Regions from separate parts of the Homo sapiens genome. Here region 1 is reported to be linked to region 2. The links are microRNA targets in miRTarBase. Many come from high-throughput screens and were not tested one by one. Region 2 holds a microRNA gene; the other region holds the end of a gene's coding sequence.

Region 1 (4,067 bases), not on the chromosome of region 2:
ACAGGCAGTGTGCAGCCTGCCACTGTTTCATGCTGGCAAACATTTCAAGAAAATGACATTCTGGGTCCAAAATACCTGGATTCTCTGCCTAGTTTTGCCACTTGATGTACAATTTTGAGCGAAGTGCTCAAAGGCTCCTGTCTTCAGTTTCCTCAATTATAAACATGGATGCATGCTGACTTCCCAAAATTCTGTTGTGATCACCAAAATGAAATGTTTATGAAAGAACCTATCCCATAGTTTAATCAGCCAACCCAGCCCCAGCTTCCCCTGGATTCATGTGATATTCTAGATGACTAAATTGTAAGTCAGTCTAGACGTTGGCAACGTCCTTTGCAATGAATGGATAAAATGCGATGGGTTGATGGGTGGATAGAGGAACAGATGGACAGATCTATGAGAAAACAAGTAAGATGTTAATGTTAACTGTATAATCTAGGTGGTGGGAATATGGGTGTCTACTTTAAATTCCTTCAACTTTTCAGAATAGTTGAAAACTGTCACTAAAAGAATGTTGGGAAAAAAAATCATGCTATAAGCACATAGGGAGCATCTGTGTGTCTTCTGTGTCTGGAGCAAATGAACAACGCACAGAGGTGACTGTCCTTGCCACGCCGGGACTCTCAGAGTGGTGGTGGACCTGAGAGGGATACTGGTCCCCCGCCTTGCAAAGCTGGCTTCAGGAGGCGTTCTGCCAGCAACTGCGCCCTGTGGCCTCAGGAGCAACCCTGCCTCTGTCTTGCCATCCTTGTGCCTGCGGTGCTGCCTGTCTCTTCAGTGGCCTGACCAGTTTTCCCCCAAGTCCCTGCTCTCAGAGGTCCTCCTGCATCCTTACTGCCACCAGAGTCACCTGAGCCACTGCTTCAGGTCAGGCAGCTACCTGTGAGGGAGAGCTGGCCTCCTGGGGAAGCAAGGGCCACAGCCTGGGCTGGCCTCTTTCTCTGCAGCCCCCCTCTTGCCCAGCTGTCTGGCATGCCCGCCTTCCAGGGTCCACACAGCTGTGCCCCTCCCCAACCAGCAAAGAACCCAACTGTCAGGTTTCAGCTGCAGCACAACTGCCGCGAGTCGGCCACACTCTGTGAGGCTTTAATGTCTGCCTTACTCTCTGGGACCCACCATGCCTGTGTCCATCTCTGGGACTCTGTATACTCCTTGTTGTTTACATTTCCTGCTATGAGGCTGCTGGAAAGCAAAACCTGGGTTTTATTCATCTTTGTTCCTTTCCTAACTGGCGAAAGGAAGTGCTCAATGCTGATTAAATGATGAAAAACAAATTATCACGTCAACCCCAGAAGCTCTTTTATACTAAAAATGTGCACAGTTGTGTGTGTGTGTGTCTTTCTCCCCTACTACATGGGCCCCTCTGAGGCTGTGTTTAGGTCCTGCTTGCCGCGTTTGCTGTTAGTGTCTAATGCAGACTAAGCAGGCAGCACTGCCGCCTGACCTGAAGCGACAGAGATGAGATGCTCACAAGCCACCACCTGGCTGAGGGAAAATGACTGTGAAAGGAACTGTGAAGGAAGAAAAGCAACAGAAGTTGCTCAGCTCAATATTCTAGGTTCTGTAAACGGCAAGAGAGTGCTCTTCACAGAAGGGCAGGCCTCACAGGCCATCCAGGTCTGTTATGACTACCCCACGCCGCTGCTGTAGAGGAAAGGCAGCGGGCTGACCAAGGTCTAGTTAACCTGACCTTGTACAGACACTGGGAGTGTGTCCTGGAGCCTCACGGAGGGAGAGGGACGGACTCTTGAGAAACAGAGACAATTGCTCCACTGTGAGCACCTCACAGAGGAGCCAGGAAGGAAGTTCTGTGGGGACTGCAGGTGTGAAAATGGTTGGATCCTGGGGCCCAGCTTTCTGTCAGTGAGTGATTGTGCAAATCACTGTGGCTAACACCTCCTCCACTAGAGAGCCACATGTGTATGGGGCAACAGAAGACATGAACCAGCTCAGCCCCTGCTGATAACAGGCTTCTTTCTCAGTCACTCCGCAAGGCTTATGGCTAGCAGTCCACTGCACGTCCTGTTCGCGTGACTCCACAACACTTCCCTTGGGTTTGAGAGATCGTCTTTTGGGGTGCGTCTGGTGTTAACAGCAGGCTAAGTGAGGGCTTAACAGTGCCAGCAGCCCTGCCTCCCCCAAGTTGGTAGGTTTAGAAAACTTGGAGTCTTTAAGACTTTGCCTTTCCTCCTCCTCTTGAATTTGCCGCTTCTCACCACTTCATTTCTAGTCCAAGGCTACGGCCCCTTTGGTATGGAAGACCAGGCATTTGTTCTTAGCTGATCTCCTACCCAGTATTCCCTCATTTCAACCCCTCCTGCTTTGATGTCAGACTTTTGAAAACACCATTTTCCGGCCCCCAAACTACTAGTGTCTATTCCCTACCAATTCCTCGTTCTGTTGCCCTGCCTGGCTTTCAGGGCTATCTGCTTGGAGGCTGAGTTGGTCATGTCAGTCCTCAGCTCATGTCTACTTGGTTCTTTGTTCTTACTGACGGGGAATGGACGCCTCTAACTGCAACACGGTTCTGTCCAAAGCATCTCCCCAGCAACTGCTTCTACCTTGGCTCACAATTCTTTTTTTTTTTTTTTTTTTTTGAGACGGAGTCTTGCTCTGTCGCCCAGGCTGGAGTGCAGTGGCGCAATCTCGGCTTGCTGCAAGCTCCGCCTCCCGGGTTCACGCCATTCTCCTGCCTCAGCCTCCCGAGTAGCTGGGACTACAGGCGCCTGCCACTGTGCCCAGCTAATTTTTTGTATTTTTAGTAGAGACGGGGTTTCACCGTGGTCTCGATCTCCTGACCTCGTGATCCACCTGCCTCGGCCTCCCAAAGTGCTGGGATTACAGGTGTGAGCCACCGCACCTGGCCCACAATTCTTTATTCACTGCTTCTTTCTATAGAGTTCTAAACACAAGTCCAGTTCTCTCTCCTCTTGTCACATACTCTCTAAAATCAAGATTTGCATTCTTTTCCTGTATACTTTTCTTTTCTGACACAGGGTTCACCCAGGATGGAGTGCAGTGATACAATCATAGCTCATTGCAGCCTTGGACTCTGAGATTCAAGCGATCCTCTCCCCTCAGCCTCTCAAAGTGCTGGGATTATAGGCATGAGCCATTGTGTTGGGCCTGCTCAATTTTTAAAATCTACCAATATTGTCACATTGTTCACCTTCCCTTATGATCTAAGCACATGTAGCTTCTGTGCAGGCCCATGTAAATCCCCCTGACTGGCCAGCCCAGCCTCCATCTCCTGGATGAAGTTTCTCCAGCTCTCCAGCCTACACTGCTAGTCTGAACTGGTAACAGGGTCTGGGCCCCTTGCATGTGACATCAACTGTAGAACCAGGTCCCAGCTAGGAGTTTCTGAAGGGGCAGGCACAGAGGACTCTAATACTAAATTTATTTAACTGGTGGCTCTGCTTTCCATGGGAGGGAGTCCTGAGGCGAACCCTTTCCAGAGAGATGCTCATGTAACTGTGAAACTGCTCTGGACAGGCAGCAAGGAAAGGATGAGAACCCAAAGATGAACAATCTGGAATATGAAAAAGTTGTTTCCAAATAATCACATTCACTACCCTTGAGAGTAAAGGAGGTACTTGGAGTTTCTAATAAACGAGAGAGAGATTCCTAGGAGAATATATGTAACTTTCTAAATAATTTTTAATTCTAAATTTAAAAAAATACCTTCCAATAAGGAGCTTGGAAAAGAATACAAAATAATGGACCTTGAGGAACATAATATTCTAGAAACAAAAGGCAGCGCCTCCCTTGCTAGAGCTCACTGTATTAAACTCCAGGTACCTGACAAATTTAAGATCTGTATCCTGGCTGGAATCTAGCAGTCTCTTCAAAAATTAGTTCTTTGAGCTTTTCCTTAGGCAAGTCATCCAATTCCATGTCGAACTTGAATGGTGCTTCGGCGATGGGCTTTAAAAGAAAACAAAACATTTAACAGTCAAAGTTGTTATGGGTAAGGCAGTAATTTACTGATTCATAAAATGACCACTGCTCAGATTCTGAATTTACAACAGGACTGATGTCTCATAAAAACTTAAGAGTTGATGGCC
Region 2 (4,067 bases):
TTTCTTCCTACAACAAACTTTTATTAAACACCTACTCCAGACCTGGCACTATGCTGATGGCTAAGGATAGACAGTAAAACAATAGCAAAGAAGTTCCTTTTAAGGAACTTTTATTTCTTTGCTGAATGCCGCAGACAGATTCTAAGGTGGTCCCCAGTATCAACACCTTCCCCTCTCCTTGAGTGGGCAGAACCTAGAGACCTGCTTCTAACCCATGCAACACAAAAAAGGTGGTCGGATGTCACCTTTGTGACATGTTACATGGGACGGCAATGCCCGTCTTGCTATAGGACTCTTTCTCTTGCTGGCTGTGATGAAGCAGGTGGCCATGTTTGGGAGGCCCACATGCCAAGGAACTGGAGGCAGCCTCTACCCACAACCAACCAAGAATTCAAGACAACCAGCAGGAACCTGAAGCCTTCTAATAGACTGCAAGGAACTGAATTATCCCAATAACCTTGAGAGCTTGGAAGCAGGTCCTTCTCCAGTTGAGCCTTGAGATGAGATCACAACCTCAACCAAACCCTTGTGTGCAGCCTTATGAAACCCTGAAGCAGAGGGCCGAGACAAATGGAAGGTGCTGAATGCCTGTTGTTTTAAGCCACGAAGTTTGCTATCATTATATGACAATAAAAAACACAGGGGGAGATAGGCCACCACAAATAAACAAGGAGACTACAGACTGCAATATGGGCATAGCTAGGAAACAGTACAGGGTGAGGTGAAGAGAATAAAGATATGGTGAGAGGCAGTGAAGGCACTGCCCTCCCTAGGGTGTCCAGGAAGAACCTCTCTTAGAGAGTGAGATTTGGTCTGAGACTAGAAGGAAAAGAAGGATCCAGTTGAAGGACAGGCTGAAGGGAGACGTTTCCAGGTGGAAGAATGGAAACAAAAAGGTCCAGGTGACGGCAGCAGAGTGACACCAAATGGGATCACAGAGGCAGGTGGTGTCCAGGCTGTGAGGCATCTATGGGGCTGACAACATGCTTGGGGACTGGAACCATAAAAGGGGCCGAGCAAGGAAACCACCAATTTAAGAGCCCTCAGCCTCATTCCCCTGCCATCAATCCTGCCAGATTAATTTCCCCCAAATGTCAATTTCATTCCACAGCTCAATAAGAAGGGGGTTCTCATTACTGCCCTCAGCTTGCCTCATTTAATTCTTTCTTCTTTATAGCCACAGACATGTATTGAGCACCTATCAGATCCAGGAACTGTGCTAGGCACTTCATTGGCACATATGTTCCTGCTGTCTGTATGCTGGCCTCAGAAGCCCTCAAAGTCCTGCGTCCATTTAAATCCTACTGCTCTGTTATGGGCTGAATTGTGTGCCTCAAAAGATATATTGAAGTCCTAACCCCAGCTACCTATGAGTGTGATCGTATTTGAAAGTAGGGTCTTTGCAGATGTAATCAGGTTAAATTGAGGTCATTAGGGTGGACCCTAATCCAATAGGACTGGTGTCCTTATTAGAAGAGGAGACAGGGCTGAGCAAAGTGGCTCACACCTATAATCCCAGCACTTTGGGAGGCTGATGCAGAAGGATTACTTGAGGCCAGAAGGGAGTTTGAGACCAGCCTGGGCAACATAGCAAGACCCTATTTCTACAAAAGAGAAAACCAGCCAGGCATGGTGGTACTTGCCTATAGTCCCAGATACTCAGGAGGCTGAGGTGGCAGGATTGTTTAAGCCCAGGGGGGCAGAGGCTGCAGTGAGCTATGATTGCACTGCTCCAGCCAGAGTGACAGAGCAAGACCCTGTCTCTGAAAAATAATAAAAAGACGACGAGACAGACATGCAGGTATAGTGCCGTGTGACAACAGAGGCAGAGACTGGAGTGATGCAGTTACAAACCAAGGAATGCCAAGGGCTGCTGGCAAGCCCAGGAGCCAGGAAGGAGCAAGGAAGGGCCCTCCCCTGCAGATTTCAGAAGGAGCCTGGCCCTGATGACACCTCAATTTCAGATTGCGAGGCTCCAGAAGTCTGAAAGGATGATTGCTGTTGTAAGGCACCCAGTTTGTGGTACATTGTTACAGCAGCCCTAGCATACAGATACGCCCAACGTTCAGGCTTTCTCTGGGCGTATCTGTGTGCTAGGGCTGCCATAGCACAGACACCCCACACTCCCCCTGCAGCCTCCCCCAGCTGCTCCATCTCGTGCTGGCTTCTCCCTTCCCTGAACTTCTGAACTTCTGGATCATTTACCCTCTCTCTGCACAACTCATTTTGGTCTTTCATCACGTTGCCTTGCTGCTGCCTGTTTCCTGTGTGTCTGCCTTGTCTCCCAAAGGACCTTGAAGAGGATACTCCCCAACTTCCTCCAGACACCTTGGATGAAGGCCTCATGGAGACACTCAGAAAAATGTACACTAGGTTTCTCGGGGTGGAGAAACGGGGTTTTTTTTTTTTAAACATTTTACATTTTGCTTATCAGTATTATCAATGTTTTCTGGAGTAAACATGTATTATTCAATATACCTCCTACCTTCCAAAAAAAACCACTGAAAAAAGGAGTCCAGTTAACCTAAGACTCTCCCCATAGATAAAGTGACCATGCAGAGTTTAAGCCATTCAAGACTCTGGAATTTTAGCCATTTAGCCAAAGGAAGATGCTTTTTGGTTTTGGGGGTTGTTTTTTGAGACAGAGTCTCGCTCTGTCTCCCAGTCTGGAGTGTAGTGGTGCAATCTCGGCTCACTGCAACCTCCACCTCCTGGGTTCAAGGGATTCTCCTGCCTCAGCCTCCCGAGTAGCTGGGATTACATGCATGTACCACCATGCCTGGCTAATTTTAGTAGAGATAGGGTTTCACCATGTTGGCCAGGCTGGTCTCAAACTCCTGACCTCAAACCCACCTCAGCCTCTCAAAGTGCTGGAATTACAGGCGTGAGCCACCGTGCCTGGCCGGAAGATGCTTTTTGATGAGCCCAAGGGCAGACCTCTGAAACTGCTCACATCAGGCGGTCCTAATGGGTGTCTTCCTCTGTCTCCTCTCCCCAGTCCAAAGGACCTAATGCCACCCACCCAGCTACCCTGATGAAAGAGAGAAACAGCATGTGTTTGAAAACCATCAAATCACCTTCCTACCAGGTCAAGGAGAGCAGTGTTTCCCTTTGGGCCACCCTTATAGGGCTCCCATCTCATGCTTTACCTCTCCAGACTCACACCACAGGAGGCATTATTAACTATTCTGATTTTTGCACTTCGTTCTCATCTGTTACATAACCACATGCAAGTTTAAAAACATACACGCATTTGGGAAAGAAATGAGCTGAATTTGATTTTAAAAACTGGCTTCACACTACCTCAGTTGTTTGGGAACTAAGCCTCTCTGGGCTAAATTTTTGGCTTGGCAACACTCTCGCATATATAATTTTACACCTGCAAAAGCTTGCAGCCAGCCCTGTGCAGACAGCTACCTGCAGGGAGAAGAATGGGCCAAACAGAGGGGCAACCCGGGTGGTTGGATGTGGTCATGGTGAGGGCATGTAAAGAGGAGTATTGGGCATGGGGTCTCTTTTCCTTCATCCCTTGCACCAGGAGGACTCCCTGCCCCTGTTTTGCTCAGTTCAGCTCCATGCTCAAAAACAAACAAACAAACAAACAAACAAAACGTACAACTAGCTCTTTACTGGGAACAGCAGAGACGAACTTGCAAACTGGTAGCCCACCGGTGAGTTCTGGCCTGCAGACCTGCGTAGTCTGGTTCTCACTGTGATTTTCACATATGCAAATTAATTGCCAATTTGGGAGCATTTCAAATACAAATCTACAATTCTGGCTTGTCTCCAAAGGTCAGTCCATCAAATAACAATGGATTTTAGTGGCCATCATAAGCTGGTACTAAGAGGCAATTGCCCACTTTGCATAAGGTACATGCCTGCAATTCACCAGTCCACCTGATCCAATTCCCTCACTCAAGTTACCTGCTTAATCTTTTTTCGCATCAGAGTTTGAGATCCCTGCTGCCAAACATAGCGCTTAAGGTGGCAGGCCCTAGAATCAGATAGCCTGGGCTCAAATCTTAGCAAATAGAGCATGATTTTAGGCAGGTTATTTAACTCATCCC

What was found. The annotated mature microRNA hsa-miR-585-3p reads UGGGCGUAUCUGUAUGCUA and lies in region 2 at 2,043-2,061, opposite strand. An mRNA with a match to its seed (bases 2 to 7 or 8) in the 3' UTR can be bound and repressed. Matches are read on the target gene's strand: a 7mer-m8 pairs with bases 2 to 8, a 7mer-A1 pairs with bases 2 to 7 and ends in A, and an 8mer does both.
Region 1: the mRNA of MAPK1 is a reported target of hsa-miR-585-3p. The part of its 3' UTR that is shown has no 7-base or 8-base seed match.

The regions. Positions count from the first base shown.
Region 1 is chr22:21,765,394-21,769,460 of GRCh38, forward strand. MAPK1 (mitogen-activated protein kinase 1) reads right to left here. Exons shown (of 9, transcript NM_002745.5): 8 at 3,802-3,927. The coding sequence ends at 3,811. Among named protein-coding and RNA genes, the nearest start is that of YPEL1, 32 kb to the left of the region's middle. RefSeq lists an enhancer at 1,689-1,758.
Region 2 is chr5:169,261,574-169,265,640 of GRCh38, forward strand. MIR585 (microRNA 585) reads right to left here and starts at 2,121; the gene lies at 2,028-2,121. The region is part of intron 1 of SLIT3 (slit guidance ligand 3); the gene reads right to left.